Regions from separate parts of the Homo sapiens genome. Here region 2 is linked to region 1. Evidence: fine-mapped expression QTL. Tissue or cell type: whole blood. Region 1 holds a variant in brackets; the other region holds the start of a gene. All regions are shown on one strand. Distances are from middle to middle.

Region 1 (9,903 bases):
AAGTCAATGACCTGAACTATGAAGATAAACTCCAGGAAGATCGTTTCCTATACAGTAACATTGCCTTCAACCTGGCTGCAGATGCTGGTGAGGGGTAAATGGAGTGTGGCATGGGCATCTCCATGGCTTCCTAAGAGTGGAACAGGGACCCCTGGTGAGGGAAACCCTGACCTTGTAGGGTAGGAGGTTGTGGAAGCAGTGGGAGGTTGGCGTAAAGGGCAGAGGATGTTATGGAGGAAGGGAAGTTCTCTCCAGATGGCCCATGCTGAGACAGCAGTCATTTTCTTCTGGCTTAACAGCTCAGTCCAAATGCCTGGACCAAGCCCTGGCCCTGTGGAAGGAGCTGCTTACAAAGGGGCAGGCCCCAGCTGTACGGTGTCTCCAGCAGACAGCAGCCTCACTGCAGATCCTAGCAGCCCTCTACCAGCTGGTGGCAAAGGTAATGGGGTGGGGCATTGAGGGGGACCCATATAAACAAGGACTAGACCAGAAACAGCTCCCTCGCCTTCTTTGGCCTGTGATCCTCCTGAGAAGCCATGAAAGCCAGTGATGGAAGCGCAGGGCTGTATCACCAGTCTTATTTTAAATCCAAGCTCCCTCATTCATTAGTGTATGGCCTTGGGCAAGTTGCTTAACCTAAGCCCAAGTTTCCTTATCTCTAAAATAGGGGCCATGCTACTGCCTCGTGGCGTTATTATTCAGTGCAGCAGTGCATGGAAGAGGTATTGTGTAAATGGTATGCTCAAATGTTAGCTTTAGTCTGGGCAACACGGCGAAACCCCGTCTCTACAAGAAATAAAAAAAATATAGCCCGGTGCGGTGGCATGTGCCTGTAATCCCAGCTACTCAGGTGGCTGAGGCAGGAGAATCCCTTGAGCCAGGAGGTAGAGGTTGCAGTGAGCCAAGATCGCGCCACTGCACTCCATCCTGGGGGACAGAGCAAGATGCTGTTTCACGCTATTTCATTAAAAAAAAAAAAGTTAGCTTTAATTATTAGATGATTTGTTACCTATCAGAAAAATACATAGATGCCTTTAGACACAATTTTACATTCTTACATTCTTATGTGTGCCTTCTTTTTTTTTTTCAAGATGGAGTCTCACTCTGTCGCCCAGGCTGGAGTGCAGTGGCGCAATCTGGGCTCACTGCAACTTCCGCCATCTGGGTTCAAGTGATTCTCCTGCCTCAGCCTCCTGAGTAGCTGGGACTACAGGCACGCAACCACGCCTGGCTACTTTTTTGTATTTTTAGTATAGACAGGGTTTCACCATATTGGCCAGGCCGGTCTCGATCTCCTCAGGTGATCCACCCGCCTCAGCCTCCCAAAGTGCTGGGATTACAGGCGTGAGCCACCGCACCCAGCTTTCCGCCCCGCCCCCCCGCCGAGATAGAGTCTTGCTCTGTTACCCAGGCTGGAGTGCAGTGGCGTGATCTCAGCTCACTGCAACCTCCACCTCCTGGGTTCAAGCGATTCTCCTGGCTCACTCAGCCTCCTGAGTAGCTGGGACTACAGGCGCATACCACCACACCCTGCTAATTTTGTATTATTGGTAGAGATGGGGTTTCACTATGTTGGCCAGGCTGATCTCGAACTCCTGATCTCAGGTGACCCGTCTGCCTCAGCCTTTCAAAGTGCTGGGGTTACAGGCATGAGCCACTGTGCCTGGCCTATAAGGCCATGTACATTCTTATTTCAGGGAGTTTCACAAAATTCCTGAAGCTCTACCCTAGACTCCACATTAGGAAACAAACAAACAAACAAAAAGCCTTTATACATGCTGTTAACTATGAGCTATTAAACCATATTTCTAGCAGGGGAAGCTACCTCAGCCCTAGATTTGAGACTTGGTTCTGCCACATACCTGTTATATGAACTTAGACAAGCAACTTAACCCATGTGAGTCTTAGCTTCCTGTACTGTAAAATTGGGATTAGACTTGTTATGAAGGTTAAATGCACTGATGCATGTAAGCCTGGGCACAGTGCCTGGCACATAGTAAGAACTCAGAAAATCCTGGCTATTGATGATGAATGGCATCTAGGCTTTAAAACAGTAGGGGTGGGGTGATGATTGCTTCATCTGGGTAACTACATTCCACCCAGGCCCTGAGGTCAAACTACAGTCCAAGGTCCCAAAGGGCTGGGGAGCAGAGGGTAGAAATAGAGGCTTGAGCAGGGGTGGAGTAAACTTGGCTGCTTCTGCTGACCAGCCCATGCAGGCTCTGGAGGTCCTCCTGCTGCTACGGATTGTCTCTGAGAGACTGAAGGACCACTCGAAGGCAGCTGGCTCCTCCTGCCACATCACCCAGCTCCTCCTGACCCTCGGCTGTCCCAGCTATGCCCAGGTGAGTGCCCAACCAGCCTAGTCTGGGGACTGCAGGGGGCCCGTAGCTTTAGAGGCCCACCTCTGAGAAGACAGGATATCAAAGGGGCAGCTTCTCGGCCTTTTACCACCACAACTGGCTGGAGAATTGTGGAGTGTGGAGCAGTTGGAGGCAGCTGTAAGAAGGGGAGTCATCTTTGTCCTTCCTGCAAAACCAGTTGTTCATTAAGTTTACAGACTGCTGCAGGAACCTACCGCCAGTCTTGTATTTCCTAACTGGTTCTGTTGCCCTAGTTGATGCTTCATTGCTCATGTAAAGCTATCACAGTGTCTCCTGGTTGGTCTCCTTGCCTCCAGTTTCTCCCTTTTCTACTTCGTCTTCTTAACGACCACTGGTAGGCACAGGTGTGATGTAATCTCTTTCCTGCTTAACCCTGTTCCCTTTTGCCCCAATAATACTTGCCAGCGCTTACGGCTGCAGTGTTTACCCCTGGATAACTTTGCCACAAAATATCTCACTCTTACTATTTTTGCATCACTCTAGTATATTGACTTTGGAAACAGAAGACATCATTCTGTTTATAGCATTCTGTTTTTAGTGGTG[TCATTTC/T]CATTTCCATTTCCATTTCCACTTCCACGTCACCCTCCCGAGTAACTGGGACTACAGGTACATGCCACCACACCTGGCTAATTTTTAAATGTTTTGTAGAGACAGAGTCTCACTATGTTGCCCAGGCTGGTCTTGAACTCCTGGGCTCAAGTGATCTCCCACCTCAGCCTCCCAAAGTACTGATAATACAGGCATGAGCCACCGTGCCCAGCTACTGCTTACTCTGTATATAGCTTTAATCTAAAAGTGGTTAACCAGGCTGAGCGCAGTGGCTCACACGTGTAATCCCAGCATTTTGGGAGGCTGAGGTGGGCAGATCACCTGAGGTCAGGAGTTGGAGACCAGCCTGACCAACATGGAGAAACCCCGTCTCTACTAAAAATACAAAATTAGCCAGGTATGGTGGCGCATGCCCGTAATCCCAGCTACCTGGGAGGCTGAGACAGGAGAGCACTTGATCCCGGGAGGCGGAGGTTGCGGTGAGCTGAGATCACACCATTGCACTCCAGCCTGGGCAACAAGAGCGAAACTCCGTCCTAAAAAAAAAAAAGTGGTTAACCAAGTGTTAAATGGACATTTTAGAGAGTGAATCAATAACTCCTATGCAGATTATAATATCTGAAATAATGTAATATTTATTGGACATGTTGAACATTTTGCTTGTAAATACTTTACTCCACTTTTTTTTTTTTTTTTTTTTTGAGACGGAGTCTCACTCTGTTGCCCAGGCTGGAGTGCAGTGGCGCGATCTCCATTCACTGCAACCTCTGCCTCTCGGGTTCAAGTGATTCTCATGCCTCAGCCTCCCGAGTAGCTGGGATTACAGGCGCGTGCCACCACACCTGGCTAATTTTTGTATTTTTAGTAGAGATGGGGGTGTCACCATGTTGGCCAGGCTGGTCTTGAACTCCTGACCTCAGGTGATCCGCCCACCTTGGCCTCCCAAAGTGCTGGGATTACAGGTGTGAGCCACATGGCCACCCTTATTTACTCCAGTTTTGTTTGAAGAGCCTGGCTGCCTTTCCTCATGTGCCCTCTGATTGCTTCCTTAGTTACACCTGGAAGAGGCAGCATCGAGCCTGAAGCATCTCGATCAGACTACTGACACATACCTGCTCCTTTCCCTGACCTGTGATCTGCTTCGAAGTCAACTCTACTGGACTCACCAGAAGGTATTTCTCACTTTCTTAAACTCCGAAGGCCCTGGGTATTAGAAAGAATTTAGGATTTTCTTGATATTTGCCTGGCTTTTGAGATTTCCCTGGAGCTAGGCAGTATGTTCCTGACCCTGAGAGGCAGGCATATTTCCTAGCCTTGCCCTCGCCAGCGATTTGCTCACCAGTCCTCCTCTGGTAGAGATACAGTCCTTTTCCTTCTTCAGGGGCAAGGGGGAAAGTCTGTCCTGTGACGAAAAGCTGGGACAATGGTGATCCTGGGAAGGCATGGGAGCTCTGGACTAGAAATCCAGGGGATGGCAAAGACTTGAGTTTTCTCCCAAACTAGTTGTGTGACTTGGGCACGTCTTCTACCTTCTCATGCTCTAGTTTCTTCTCTACGTTTTTATCATTCCTAAATTGGCGGACAAGTCACTGGTGAGGGCAAAGCTAGGAACTGTTACTGCTTCTCAGGGTCAGGAACATTCTGCCTAGGTCCAGGGAGATCTCGAAAGCCAGGCAAATATTCAGAAAATTCTAAAATCTTTCTAATACCCAGGGCCTTCAGGGATGGGGCCACGTAATCTCCAGGGCCTCTCAAGCTCTGGAGTGCCTGACTGCCTTACTGCCTCCTCTGGCTCCTTCTCTCCTTCAGGTGACCAAGGGTGTCTCTCTGCTGCTGTCTGTGCTTCGGGATCCTGCCCTCCAGAAGTCCTCCAAGGCTTGGTACTTGCTGCGTGTCCAGGTCCTGCAGCTGGTGGCAGCTTACCTTAGCCTCCCGTCAAACAACCTCTCACACTCCCTGTGGGAGCAGCTCTGTGCCCAAGGTGAAAGAATAGGGTGGATGGCCCCCCTTGGATGACATGTATGGTCTGTCTGCTGTCAGCTCTTCTCAAACCTCATCCCCTCTGCTGGCTAACTATGTGGCCCAGCCTACCTAGAACCTGCACAGAGTAGGCCTGGGATAGCAGATGGGTTTCAGTTTGCCTGCTGACTCTAAACAATTGGTGACTGCCTGGAATACTAGGCTGAAAGGATTTTTTTTTCTTTTCTTTTTTTTCTAAGACGGAGTTTCGCTGTTGTCACCCAGGCTGGAGTGCAATGGTGCAATCTCAGCTCACTGCAACCTCTGCCTCCTGGGTTCAAACGATTCTCCTGCCTCAACCTCCTGAGTAGCTGGGATTACTGGCATGCGCCACTACGCCCGACTAATTTTTGTATTATTAGTAGAGGTGGGGTTTCACCATGTTGGCCAGGCTGGTCTCAAACTCCTGACCTCGGGTGATCCGTCTGCCTCAGCCTCCCAAAATGCTGGGATTACAGGCTTGGGCCACTGCGCCCAGCCAGCTGAAAGGATTCTGAGACCCCAGGGGATCTCAGAGGGAAGGAGTTATGAGATTGATTAGCTCTGCCTGCCTTAATGCAGAAGGAAGCATGGGAAGCAGGCTTTGCTGCCTTAGTAGCTAAAAGTGGTGAAGTTCTGGCTGCATCTTCTCCCTTTTTCACCCCACCCACCACAGGCTGGCAGACACCTGAGATAGCTCTCATAGACTCCCATAAGCTCCTCCGAAGCATCATCCTCCTGCTGATGGGCAGTGACATTCTCTCAACTCAGAAAGCAGCTGTGGAGACATCGTTTTTGGACTATGGTGAGTCTGGGGAGGACAGCAGGGCCCTCTTGGAATGGACAGGCTATGTGAGAGGGCTGCGGTTTTTTCTCCAGAGGATCCACACTGTGGCTGAGTGATGGTGGTCTTGTCTCTTTTGCTACAGGTGAAAATCTGGTACAAAAATGGCAGGTTCTTTCAGAGGTGCTGAGCTGCTCAGAGAAGCTGGTCTGCCACCTGGGCCGCCTGGGTAGTGTGAGTGAAGCCAAGGCCTTTTGCTTGGAGGCCCTAAAACTTACAACAAAGCTGCAGATACCACGCCAGTAAGTACAGGGCCAGAGGATATGGCAATGATGGCACCAAAGTGCCATGCACCCTTGAACATGGATTCCAAACTGTTCCACAGATTACATGCTATGTTTAGATACATTCGTGGAAAAAGGCATTCCACAGCTAAATAAGTGGGAAATGCTGAGTTAATCAAGGTTAGATGTTTTTATTTCCTGTAGGACTCTCGTGTCCTTCAGTATGCGGATGTGCCTTGCAAATCTCCAAAAGGGAGATCTAGTGTACAGTGTTTCCCTAAGAATGTTTTCCCACAGGATTCTTTTATTGAGGAATGCAGTTTGGGAAATCCTGTCCCAAGGCACAAGGAGAGTTGGGATTAGAGAGAAGTGTAGAGGGTTTTCCCCAGGGAGCCTTTAAGTCAGCTTAAGGGAGTGAATGCCTTTTGGAGGCAGGGAAGGACTCAGGTAGCTTGGCCTGGGAAAGAGGCAAAGAGAAAGACTCTCCAGGAAAACAAAGGATTCCTCTGATTGGTTCTCCTCTCCTCTCTCAACAAGGTGTGCCCTGTTCCTGGTGCTGAAGGGCGAGCTGGAGCTGGCCCGCAATGACATTGATCTCTGTCAGTCGGACCTGCAGCAGGTTCTGTTCTTGCTTGAGTCTTGCACAGGTGAGCAGCCATGTCCCCATGACCATAGGCGGTGCTGAAATGACACACACTACAGCACATCTTTCTATGTAAAGGTTTCGTTGCCTTTTTTTATTTTTGAGACAGAGTCTCACTTTATTACCCAGGCTGGAGTGCAGTGGCGTGATCTTGGCTCACTGCAACCCCTGCCTCCTGCCTCCTAGGTTCAGGTGATTCTCCTGCTTCAGCCTCCCAAGTAGCTGGGACTACAGGCATGCGCCACCACACCCGGATAATTTTTTTTATTTGTAGTAGAGATGAGGTTTCACTATGTTGGCCAGGCTGGTCTCGAACTCCTGACCTCAGGTGATCCACCCGCCTCGGCCTCCTAAAGTGCTGGGATTACAGGCATGAGCCACCGCTCCCGGCCTTTGTTCCCTTTTTAATCAGATACTGACTTCTGGTCCCAGGGCAACATTCCCTTGACTTTAGTCCAACCATTGGTCTCCCTCTTTCAGAGAGCCTGTCCCAGACTTACCCTAGTTCTAGTTTTCAGTGCTTCCTAATACATTTTGGCTATTTAAATTTGATTTAGATAATATTTAGGGCCGGGCTCGGTGGCTCATGCCTGTAATCCTAGCACTTTGGGAGGCTGAGGCAGGCGGATCATGGGGTCAGGAGTTCAAGACCAGCCTGGCCAACAAAGTGAAACCCCATCTCTACTAATAATACAAAAATTAGCCAGGCATGGTGGCGGGCACCTGTAATCCCAGCTACTCAGAAGGCTGAGGCAGGAGAATAGCTTGAACCTGGGAGGCGGAGGTTGCAGTGAGGAAGATTGCACCATTGCACTCCAGCCCGGGTGACAGTGCGAGACTCTGACTCAAAAAAAAAAAAAAAAAGAAGAAAGAAAGAAAGAAAGATAATATTTAGAATTCAGTCCTCAGTCACACTAGCCACACTTCATGTGCTCAATAGCCACATGGCTAGTGGCTACCGTATTGAGTAGCACAAACATATCCTCAGGAGGGCTGAAGCTAATAATAAAACATTGCATTGATGGCACATTTTGTCTCCCCAATCACATATACTTCTAGTACTTCATTTGCCCCACACTAGACCTCATAAAGCTGAGTGGGAGCATAGATTATTTTCATTTGTTAAATGAGAAAGTTGAGAAGTCTATGTTTGGGGCCAGCATCACAGGGTAGGAGGCAGGATTCAGGTGTGGGCCTGCTGGGGCCAGCCTGCTTTTCTCAGCCATGTGGCCCCTGAGCTGCAGGTGTGGGGGCTTTGTGGCCTGCATTTGATCCATTGTTGGTTGGAAAGAAAACAAAAATTTTACCTCCAAGGCGGGCGGATCACAAGGTCAGGAGATCGAGACCATTCTGGCTAACACGGTGAAACCCCGTCTCCACTAAAAAATACAAAAAATTAGCCGGGCGTGGTGGTGGGCGCCTGTAGTCCCAGCTACTCGGGAGGCTGAGGCAGGAGAATGGCATGAACCCGGGAGGCGGAGCTTGCAGTGAGCTGAGATTGTGCCACTGCACTCCAGCCTGGGCGACAGAGAGAGACTCCATCTCAAAAAAAAAAGAAAAAAAGAAAAAGATTTTACCTAAAAAATAATAAGCCATACTAATATTTGATATGTTATACAGTAATACATATATATACACACATATATATACACGTACGTATATAAAACACATATATTAGAGAATTGGGCCCCAAGGTCGCTCAGGAAGTGCTTGATGCCATTTCTCCCCGTTTTGTAATTCTTGTTCTGCCTTCTCCCCAGAGTTTGGTGGGGTGACTCAGCACCTGGACTCTGTGAAGAAGGTCCACCTGCAGAAGGGGAAGCAGCAGGCCCAGGTCCCCTGTCCTCCACAGCTCCCAGAGGAGGAGCTCTTCCTAAGAGGCCCTGCTCTAGAGCTGGTGGCCACTGTGGCCAAGGAGCCTGGCCCCATAGCACCTTCTACAAACTCCTCCCCAGTCTTGAAAACCAAGCCCCAGCCCATACCCAACTTCCTGTCCCATTCACCCACCTGTGACTGCTCGCTCTGCGCCAGCCCTGTCCTCACAGCAGTCTGTCTGCGCTGGGTATTGGTCACGGCAGGGGTGAGGCTGGCCATGGGCCACCAAGCCCAGGGTCTGGATCTGCTGCAGGTCGTGCTGAAGGGCTGTCCTGAAGCCGCTGAGCGCCTCACCCAAGCTCTCCAAGCTTCCCTGAATCATAAAACACCCCCCTCCTTGGTTCCAAGCCTCTTGGATGAGATCTTGGCTCAAGCATACACACTGTTGGCACTGGAGGGCCTGAACCAGCCATCAAACGAGAGCCTGCAGAAGGTTCTACAGTCAGGGCTGAAGTTTGTAGCAGCACGGATACCCCACCTAGAGCCCTGGCGAGCCAGCCTGCTCTTGATTTGGGCCCTCACAAAACTAGGTGGCCTCAGCTGCTGTACTACCCAACTTTTTGCAAGCTCCTGGGGCTGGCAGCCACCATTAATAAAAAGTGTCCCTGGCTCAGAGCCCTCTAAGACTCAGGGCCAAAAACGTTCTGGACGAGGGCGCCAAAAGTTAGCCTCTGCTCCCCTGCGCCTCAATAATACCTCTCAGAAAGGTCTGGAAGGTAGAGGACTGCCCTGCACACCTAAACCCCCAGACCGGATCAGGCAAGCTGGCCCTCATGTCCCCTTCACGGTGTTTGAGGAAGTCTGCCCTACAGAGAGCAAGCCTGAAGTACCCCAGGCCCCCAGGGTACAACAGAGAGTCCAGACGCGCCTCAAGGTGAGGTGGGACTGTTGCTAGGTGGTGGTGATGGTGTTGGATGGGGTTAGTCCTGGAGGAGAGTGTTTTATAGAGCAGGTGTCCCTGTGGAATAGCTCCCCAGGGCCTAGTGGAACTTTAATCTCCTGCTATCTGCAGTACCCCAATATCTTGCTTTTTTGTTTTTTGTTGTTTTTTTGAGAAGGAGTCTCGCTCTGTCGCCCAGGCTGGAGTGCAGTGGCGCAATCTCAGCTCACTGCAAGCTCCGCCTCTTGGGTTCACGCCATTCTCCTGCCTCAGCTTCCCGAGTAGCTGGGACTACAAGCGCCTGCCACCATGCCCAGCTAATTTTTTGTATTTTCAGTAGAGACGGGGTTTCACTGTGTTAACCAGGATGGTCTTGATCTCCTGACTTCGTGATCCACCCGCCTCGGCCTCCCAAAGTGCTGGGGATTACCGGCGTGAGCCACCATGCTCAGCCTCTTTTTTTTTTTGAGACGGACTCTCACTCTGTCGCCCAGGCTGGAGTACAA
Region 2 (9,903 bases), 29 kb before region 1:
GGCTGAAGTACAGTGATACCATCAGAGCTCACTGCAGCCTTGAACTCCTGGGCTCAAGCAATCCTCCTGCCTATGTCTCAGGAATAACTGGGGTTACAGGCACCCACCACCATGCCCAGACAGGAGTCTCCCTAGTTGCCCAGGCTGGCCTCAAACTCCTGGCTTCAAGAGATCCTCCCACCTCAACCTCCTAAAGTGCTAGGGTTACAGATATGAGCCACCAAGCCTAGCAGAAATCATGATTTATTTATTTATTTATTTATTTGAGACAGAGTCTCACTCTGTTGCCCAAGCTGGAGTGCAGTGATGCGATCTTGGCTCACTGCAACCTCCACCTCCCGAGTTCAAATGATTCTCCTGCCTCAGCCACCTGAGTAGCTGGGATTACAGGCATGCACCACCATGGCCCGGCTATTTTTTTTGTATTTTTTGTAGAGATGGGGTTTTGCCATGTTGGCCAGGCTGGTCTTGAACTCCTGGCTTCAAGAGTTCCGCCCACCTTGGCCTCCCAAAGTGCTGGGATTACAGGCGCAAGCCACCACCCCTGGTCAGAAATCATGATTTTCTATCTTAGTGTTTCTAGATGAAAGCATGGGAACCATCACCCCTTTCTACTTTCCACTAGTTTGCCAGCTAGGGATGAAAGCGCTTTGGAACTTGTAGGGCGTAAATCAGCTGTTTTATCATAAGAAAGTATTTCTCCAGGCTGGACACGGTGGCTCATGCCTGTAATCCCAGCACTTTGGGAGGCCAAGGAGGGTGGAACCCTTAAGGCCAGAAGTTCAAGACTTTTTTGGGACAGGGTCTCACTCTGTCCCCCAGGCTGGAGTGCAGTGGCATGATCTCGGCTCACTGCAACCTCTGCCTCCTGAGTTCAAGAGATTCTCCTGCCTCAGCCTCCCAAGTAGCTGGGATTACAGGTGTGTGCCACTATCGCCCAGCTTTTTGTATTTTTAGTAGTGATGGGGTTTCACCATGTTGGCCAGGCTGGTCTGGAACTCCTGACTTCAAATAATCCACCCACATTGGCCTCCCAAAGTGCTCGGATTACAGGCGTAAGCCACCATGCCTGGCCAAAAGAAAGTATTTCTCCAGATGTAATCCCAAACCCTCCTACCCTACCTCTAAGCTTTAGTATAAAAAAAAAAAAAAACCAACAGGCCGGGCGCGGATCCCCTAAGGTTGGGAGTTCGAGACCAGCCTGACCAACGTGGAGAAACCCTGTCTCTAAAAAATACAAAATTAGCTGGGGGTGGTGGCGCATGCCTGTAATCCCAGCTACTTGGGAGGCTGAGACAGGAGAATCGCTTGAACCCGGGAGCCGGAGGTTGCAGTGAGCTGAGATCACGCCATTGCACTCCAGCCTGGGCAACAAGAGTGAAACTCCGTCTCAAATAAAAAAAAAAAAAGACTGATCTGCTGCGCAAGTAGGTGAACTAGTATAATTGCAGAAACTATGTGAGCTTGGAACTGGAAAGATTGGGTCCTGCTTCTAACTGCCTTTTACTATGTAACTCTAAACATGTTACCTAACCTTTCCAACTCTGGTTAGTACCTACTGTATGGATTGTTGTCAGTCAGATGAGATAATTCACCTACAGCAGTTGGACTAAACCTTCTTAAAACTCCTTAGGTACATAATAACTGATAAGTGTTATTATGTTAATATGGGCCAGTACTTTTGATAGTAATTTACATAACTTATTCATTTATTCATAGACTATTTATGGAATATTTATGATTAATACTTATCAATGACTGCTTTAAGTATAGGGAATACAGGTGAACAAAACAGATAAAAATCTGTAGGGAAAGAGATAGTAAATATTTACTTATTTACTTAGAGACGAAGTCTTGCTCTGTCCCCTAGGCTGGAGTGCAGTGGTGTAATCTTGGCTCACTGCAGCCTCCGCTTCCCAGGTTCAAGCAATTCTCGTACCTCAGCCTCCTGAGTAGGTGGGATTACAAGCGCGCACCACCAGGCCCAGCTAATTTTTTTGTTTATTTGTTTTGAGACGGAGTCTTGCTCTGTTGCCCAGGCTGGAGTGCAGTGGTGCAATCTCGGCTTACCGCAACCTCTGCCTCCCAGGTTGAAGCAATTCTCCTGCCTCAGCCTCCAAAGTAGCTGGGATTACAGGTGCACACCACCATGCCCAGCAAATTTTTTTGTAATTTTAGTAGAGACGGGGTTTCGCCATATTGGCCAGGCTAGTCTTGAACTCCTGACCTCATGATACGCCCGCCTCGGCCTCCCAAAGTGCTGGGATTACAGGTGTGAGCCACCGCGCCCAGCAATTTTTTGTATTATTAGTAGGCATGGGGTTTCGACATGTTGGCCAGACTGGTCTTAAATTCCTGGCCTCAAGTGATTCACCCACCTTGGCCTCTCAAAGTGTTGAGATTACAGGTGTGAGCCACCACACCTGGCCAAGATAGTAAATAAATAAACAAGGAAAATACATAGTGTACTGCAGAGTAAAAGCAGCAGAGAGAATAGAAAATTGGAAGGAAAGTAGGTAGATTACTGTGCTGGAGGTGGTGGTGTTGCTATTTTAAACAGGAGGGCCATGGAAGGCCCCTCTGATCAGGTGACATTTTTTAAAATTTTATTTTATTTTTTATTTTTTTGTGAGACAGAGTCTCGCTCTGTCACCCAGACTGGAGTGCAGTGGCGTGATCTTGGCTCACTGCAACCTCTGCCTCCCTGGTTCAAGCGATTCTCCTGCCTCAGCCTCCCGAGTAGGTGGGATTACAGGTGCCCACCACCATGCCTGGCTAATTTTTATATTTTTTTACTAGCGACGGGGTTTCACCATGTTGGCCAGGCTGATCTTGAACTCCTGACCTCAACTGATCGGCCTGCCTCAGCCTCCTAAACTGCTGGGATTACAGGAATGAGCCACCAGGCCCAGCCAAGATCAGGTGACATTTGAACAGAGAACTGGAGGAGGTGGGGGGGGGAACCACGTGGATATCTTGGAGAAGAACTGTACAGGGAACAGTGTGCAAAAGCCCTGGTGGTAGCCAACATAGATGGGAGGGAGAGGAGCAGGGGATGAAGTCAGAGGAGTGGCAGAGGGTCAGAGGACAGAGGGTCTTGTAGGCCATTATAAATACTTCGGCTTTTACCCTTAGTGAGATGGGAAGTCATTGGAGGCTCTTGAGGAGATGATACGGAAGCTGTAGAGAGGTTAAATAGTTTTTCCAAGGTAAAACAGCTTGTAAGTGGCAGAAGGTAGGGAATTAAGCTCCAAGGCTGAAGTTCTTAACCCCATGCTGCCACTGAACTTTAGCCTTCTTTATTTGGGCATTGCTATCCTGTGACTTCAAAGAAACTGGGACACTGGGAAGTTATGCGGCTTGCCCAAGGCCACACAGCTGGTAAGTGACAGGGGCAGGACTGCGCCTTAGTCTGTCTGCAGCCCGACTCCAAGTTCTTTACACCACACCGCCTCCCTCAGGTGTCTGGACCATACTGGCTTCTCTTGCATGGAGGTCACTGCAGTGGGAGAGGAGGCAAACCAAGGAGACCTTCTCGGCTTCGGGCAGCGGTGCTGTTCCTTAGGAAGCTCCAACCCTTGGCTCTACCGGACTGCGGGCATCTTTCCCGAGCACTGCACGGAAGAAAAGAAAATTGGCACTTATTTCAGGGTGGCCCCTCAGGCATCCAAGAGCCAGAGGAGCAGGTGTCACGGGATGGCAGCGAGCGAGGCCAGGCCAGGAGAAGCAACCGCAGCCTCCTATGGTCGCCCCTTCCCGACCCACCCCAGGCGTCAGGAGTTCCGCGCCCGGGTAAGGGAAGGAGGGCGGGCGGGCGGGGCGGGGCGGGGTTTTGGCGCCGCGCCCCCGTCACGTGATGAAGCCATCATGGCGGCGGCCAGAGGCCTGCCCGGCTCCCGGAAGCAGGCTGTGAGGGGCGGGAGCGCTGCTGGAACCCGAGCCGGAGCCGGAGCCACAGCGGGGAGGGTGGCCTGGCGGCCTGGAGCCGGACGTGTCCGGGGCGTCCCCGCAGACCGGGGCAGCAGGTGAGGCGGAGTCTGGGCGAGGTGCAAGTGGATGTGGCAGGGCTGGGCAGGGGCTAGGGGGCGCAGTGGGGTGCCAGTGACCTGGAGGAGTGGGCCTCTGAGATGCACACGCATGACCCTGAAGCAACTCGAGAGGCCTGCGCGGGTGGGAGGGATGCCCGGGACAGAGGATGAGACACTGAGGGCAAAAAGAGGCTCCGCAGCGAGGACGGGAGGTAATAGAAGGAAGTGTACGGGAGCTGCTGTGGGAAAGGGCAGTAGAATTTGCGGGAGCGGGATTATTGAAAGGGACTCCCTCTTCACAGGCAAGGATGGGTTGAGTGCCCAGTCCTCTCCCCTGTCTTCTTACCCCTCCCTGCCCCACAGTGTCCTAGGAGACAGCTTTGGCGTGGCCACTCCTCCCACCCACCCAACTGGTCCCTCCGGTCTGAGATCTTGGGGAGTGGAGTTGGCAGCGGGGTTGGGTGGAGCTGCCATCTGCTTAAGACAGCCCCTTGACCGTGCTGCCCGAAGGATGGATATGGCTCTGACTCCCACCTCTCTTCCCAGGTCGTCCGGGGGCCCACCATGCTGGTGACTGCCTACCTTGCTTTTGTAGGCCTCCTGGCCTCCTGCCTGGGGCTGGAACTGTCAAGATGCCGGGCTAAACCCCCTGGAAGGGCCTGCAGCAATCCCTCCTTCCTTCGGTTTCAACTGGACTTCTATCAGGTCTACTTCCTGGCCCTGGCAGCTGATTGGCTTCAGGCCCCCTACCTCTATAAACTCTACCAGCATTACTACTTCCTGGAAGGTCAAATTGCCATCCTCTATGTCTGTGGCCTTGCCTCTACAGTCCTCTTTGGCCTAGTGGCCTCCTCCCTTGTGGATTGGCTGGGTCGCAAGAATTCTTGTGTCCTCTTCTCCCTGACTTACTCACTATGCTGCTTAACCAAACTCTCTCAAGACTACTTTGTGCTGCTAGTGGGGCGAGCACTTGGTGGGCTGTCCACAGCCCTGCTCTTCTCAGCCTTCGAGGCCTGGTATATCCATGAGCACGTGGAACGGCATGACTTCCCTGCTGAGTGGATCCCAGCTACCTTTGCTCGAGCTGCCTTCTGGAACCATGTGCTGGCTGTAGTGGCAGGTGTGGCAGCTGAGGCTGTAGCCAGCTGGATAGGGCTGGGGCCTGTAGCGCCCTTTGTGGCTGCCATCCCTCTCCTGGCTCTGGCAGGGGCCTTGGCCCTTCGAAACTGGGGGGAGAACTATGACCGGCAGCGTGCCTTCTCAAGGACCTGTGCTGGAGGCCTGCGCTGCCTCCTGTCGGACCGCCGCGTGCTGCTGTTGGGCACCATACAAGCTCTATTTGAGAGTGTCATCTTCATCTTTGTCTTCCTCTGGACACCTGTGCTGGACCCACACGGGGCCCCTCTGGGCATTATCTTCTCCAGCTTCATGGCAGCCAGCCTGCTTGGCTCTTCCCTGTACCGTATCGCCACCTCCAAGAGGTACCACCTTCAGCCCATGCACCTGCTGTCCCTTGCTGTGCTCATCGTCGTCTTCTCTCTCTTCATGTTGACTTTCTCTACCAGCCCAGGCCAGGAGAGTCCGGTGGAGTCCTTCATAGCCTTTCTACTTATTGAGTTGGCTTGTGGATTATACTTTCCCAGCATGAGCTTCCTACGGAGAAAGGTGATCCCTGAGACAGAGCAGGCTGGTGTACTCAACTGGTTCCGGGTACCTCTGCACTCACTGGCTTGCCTAGGGCTCCTTGTCCTCCATGACAGTGATCGAAAAACAGGCACTCGGAATATGTTCAGCATTTGCTCTGCTGTCATGGTGATGGCTCTGCTGGCAGTGGTGGGACTCTTCACCGTGGTAAGGCATGATGCTGAGCTGCGGGTACCTTCACCTACTGAGGAGCCCTATGCCCCTGAGCTGTAACCCCACTCCAGGACAAGATAGCTGGGACAGACTCTTGAATTCCAGCTATCCGGGATTGTACAGATCTCTCTGTGACTGACTTTGTGACTGTCCTGTGGTTTCTCCTGCCATTGCTTTGTGTTTGGGAGGACATGATGGGGGTGATGGACTGGAAAGAAGGTGCCAAAAGTTCCCTCTGTGTTACTCCCATTTAGAAAATAAACACTTTTAAATGATCATTGATTTGATTTACTCATCCTTACCTGTAGCCTTATCAGTAGTTTCTGGTGAGTGGGCAGCTAGAGGTTTTTTTTTTAGTTTTTTTTTGTTTTGTTTTGTTTGTTTTTGTTTTGAGACGGAGTCTTGCTCTGTCGCCCAGGCTGGAGTGCAATGGCGCGATCTTGGCTCACTGCAACCTCCGCCTCCCGGATTCAAGCAATTCTCCTGCTTCAGCCTCCCAAGTAGCTGGGATTACATGTGCCTGCTACCATGCCCAGCTAATTTTTGTATTTTTAATAGAGATGGGGTTTCATGTTGACCAGGCTGGTCTCGAACTCCTCACTTCAGGTGATCCACCCACCTCGGCCTCCCAAAGTGTTGGGATTACAGGCATGAGCCACCACGCCCAGCCCAGCTAGAGGTTTTGAGGTGGGATTATCAGCAAAAGTTTTCTGTTTCTAACTTCTCCAAGGCTGTCTCCAGTTCAAACTGAGAACTATGGAATTGCTCTCAGCAGAGCTGTGTGGGAAGGGCCTGAGGCTTCTAGGTCCTCCACATTCCTCTGTTGTGGGACAGGCACTCCCCCCAGTTGTCAAGCAGAACCCTTGCTTACATCCAGGGTAAGATGATCTCCAGAGCACATGGAGTAGATGCCCCATATGCCAGGCCACTGAGCAAAGATTCCAGGGGCTTGGGCTGCTGCTGTGACCACTCCTTGGGCAAAGCCAGGGCCCTTCCTACCAAAGTAAGCTTGCAGCTCAGCACAGGCCTGCTGCCTCCCTTTTGCCTCTGTGGCTATGAATGCACCATTTGTCCAACATCATCTGGGTCTACCAGATCCTGTATCCCTGTGTGAAACCGAAGTGAAAGGCTGCCAAGGGGACAGAGTGGTGCATGGCTGAGGGACTAGGATGTCTTATCTGTACCTGACTGTCCCCAACCCAGCCTGAATGAGGGTGAGGGAGCCATCAGGGCAGGAAACAGTACTAGTGAGCCAGTTCTGTGGGTGCCTCCCTGCCTCACCTCTGATTGTATCTGCCTTTCCTCCTCCCACCAAAACCTGGGCTTCTCAGGGGAAGCACAGCCAGCTTTAAGAAGGGTGGGGAGGGAAGGAGGGTAGGCTCAAGGATGTGTCCTGGAATGTGCTTGAGATGGGCATGGGGGACACATACCCTTTCTGGAAAGGGGTTAATGACCTTTCCTTGGGTCCCAGACTACTCAGAAAGATGCAGGATGTTCCAAGACCTGCAGGTCCCAACCTGTGTGGAGAGATAGCATCAGCAGGTGCTGGTGGAATGCAGGGTGGAAGGGCTTCTGCAGGGTGAGGCCAAGGGGAGGAATGGGTGGTGGTCTCAGGTCCCTACTCAGACTAGGAAAAAACATGTTCCCCCACCCAGGCTTCAGGGAATAGAGGTTGAGGTTAAGTAAGAAAAACACATATCAGCCAGGTGTGGTGACTTACACCTGTAATCCCAGCACTTTGGGAGGCCCAGGAGTTTGAGACCAGCCTGGGCAACACGGCGAAACCCCGTCTCTACAAAAAATACAAAAATTAGCTGTGCGTAGTGGCATGTGCCCATGGTCTGAGTTACTTGGGAGGCTGAGGTGGGAGGATCAATTGAGCCTGGGAGATCGAGGCTGCAGTGAGTGATAATTGAGACACGCCACTGCACTCCAGCCTGGGCAACAGAATGAGACTGTCTCAAAAAACAAAAAAAAAGAAAAGGCATCTTTTCTACTACCCCCCTACTCCTGCCACCCATCATCTCAAGACTAAAGACAGTCTTGCAATAACTCCACTTCCTCTTTCTGCCCTGTTGGGCTAGACCTAGATATACTTTATAGTTATTTGTAGATGTTCCGTCTCAAGATCATGCTATGATCTTGAGGGGAAGAGGAAACAGTCTTACTCACCTTTATCTCCTGCATATATACACACAATTGGATGCTTTCCCCATGGCTGTGCTCAGTACATATCTGGAGAGGAGACAGGCTAGCTCACACCTGGCTTTTCAGGAGACACTTGGTGATTTGTTGTTTTGGATGACAATATCATTATTATCGGTTTTTGTTTTATTTTGTTTTTGAGATAGGGTCTCGCTCTGTCGCCTAGGCCAGAGTGTAGTGGCAGGATCATGGCTCACTGCAGCCTCGACCTCCTGGGCTCAAGCGATCCTCCCACCTTAGCCTCCCAAGTAGTAGGGACTACAGGCAGCACCACCATACCCAGCTAATTTTTTAAAAATTTTTGTAGAGACAAGGGTCTATGTTGCCCAGGCTCATCTGAAACTCCTGGGTTCAAGCCATCCTCCCTTCTCAGCCTCCCAAAGTGCTGGGATTACAGGTGTGAGCCACCACACCTGGCCTGACAGTAATTATTAGTGGCCCTCACATTCCTAAGTGATATGGAAATAGAGGGGTAGGGGAGACTAATGAGATTCCTTTAGCTTTGTCCCTGATGAGCTTGCTTCAAAGGGGCTGGTGGCAAATAGAGTGGAGAGTGTTCTTTCCTGTCAGACTCACAGCGTGTTAAGAGCTGGAAGGCATCTTAGAGATTATCCATTTGGCCTTAAACATTTTTTATTGAGCACCTGCTATGCCGTGTGTTTTACCGCTAGGTACTGGTGATATTTTTATTTATTATTTTATTTTATTTTATTTTTTAAGATGGAGTTTCGCTCTTGTCACCCAGGCTGGAGTGCAGTGGCACAATCTCGGCTCACCACAACCTCTACCTCCCAGGTTCAAGCAATTCTGCCTCAGCCTCCCAAGTAGCTGGGACTACAGGCGTGCACCACCACGCCTAGCTAATTTTTGTATTTTTAGTAGAGACAGGGTTTCACCATCTTGGCCATGCTGGTCTCAAACTCCTGACCTCATGATCCACCCGCCTTGGCCTCCCAAAGTGCTGGGATTACAGGCATGAGCAACCGTGCCCGGCCTATTTATTTATTTTTTTGAGATGGAGTCTCGCTGTATTGCCAGGCTGGAGTGCAGTGGCACCATCTCGGCTCCGAGGTTCAAGTGATTCTCCTGCCTCAGCCTCCCGCGTAGCTGGGACTACAGACACACCCCACCGCACCCAGTTAATTTTTAGTAGAGACGAGATTTCACCATGTTGGCCAGAATGGTCTTGATTTCTTGACCTCGTGATCCACCCGCCTCAGGCTCCCAAAGTGCTGGGATTACAGGCGTGAGCCACCACACCTGGCCTTATTTATTTATTTATTTATTTATTTATTTATTTTACCCAAGAGGAAAATCCACTTAAAGAAAGCAAATAACTTGCCTAAGGGCATGTAGCAAGTGAGTGATAAAACTAAGACTAAACCTTGCCTCTTTTTGCCAACCCAGTGCCCCCTCTATGACACATGCTGCCTCTGTCCCATGGGACTTCACTTACCTGTTTTTTTAGCCTCCAGCCCTGCTTCCCCACCCAAAGCTCTGTCCCTGGAGAACAGCAAGAGAGTAGGAGTATTTGGCTGTCTGATCCACTTAGGGGTATCTATCCAGATTATTCAAATGAGGGACTGGTTCACCAGGTGCATACTCCCTGCGAAATGCTGCTCATGATGCTCCACCAAGAGGCCCCATAGGGAAGTGATTAAAAATGTGGATCTGAGGGCCGGGTGCGGTGGCTCACACCTGTAATCCCAGCACTTTGGGAGGCCAAGGCGGGCGGATCATGAGGTCAGGAGATCAAGACTATCCTGGCTAACACGGTGAAACCCTGTCTTTACTAAAAATACAAAAAATTAGC

Evidence for each region. PIP is the estimated chance that this variant, and not a neighbour inherited with it, causes the effect. A credible set is the group of variants that fine-mapping cannot tell apart.
Region 2: it holds the start of SLC61A1, and the variant in region 1 is the best candidate, but not a certain one, in a credible set for the expression of SLC61A1 in whole blood (TOPMed, PIP 0.62).

Annotation. Positions count from the first base shown.
Region 1 is chr12:53,277,522-53,287,424 of GRCh38, forward strand. ESPL1 (extra spindle pole bodies like 1, separase) reads left to right here. Exons shown (of 31, transcript NM_012291.5): 10 at 1-87; 11 at 300-439; 12 at 2,211-2,345; 13 at 3,986-4,105; 14 at 4,743-4,914; 15 at 5,608-5,736; 16 at 5,861-6,017; 17 at 6,537-6,646; 18 at 8,403-9,391. Among named protein-coding and RNA genes, the nearest start is that of PFDN5, 13 kb to the right of the region's middle. The variant TCATTTC/T (reference allele first, on the strand shown) is at 2,928.
Region 2 is chr12:53,248,244-53,258,146 of GRCh38, forward strand. It overlaps SLC61A1 (solute carrier family 61 member 1), which reads left to right and starts at 3,852. Exons shown (of 2, transcript NM_032889.5): 1 at 3,852-4,025; 2 at 4,575-6,163. The coding sequence starts at 4,593. The coding sequence ends at 5,945. RefSeq lists enhancers at 3,515-3,564, 3,698-4,369, 8,003-8,202 and silencers at 3,835-4,114, 4,125-4,174.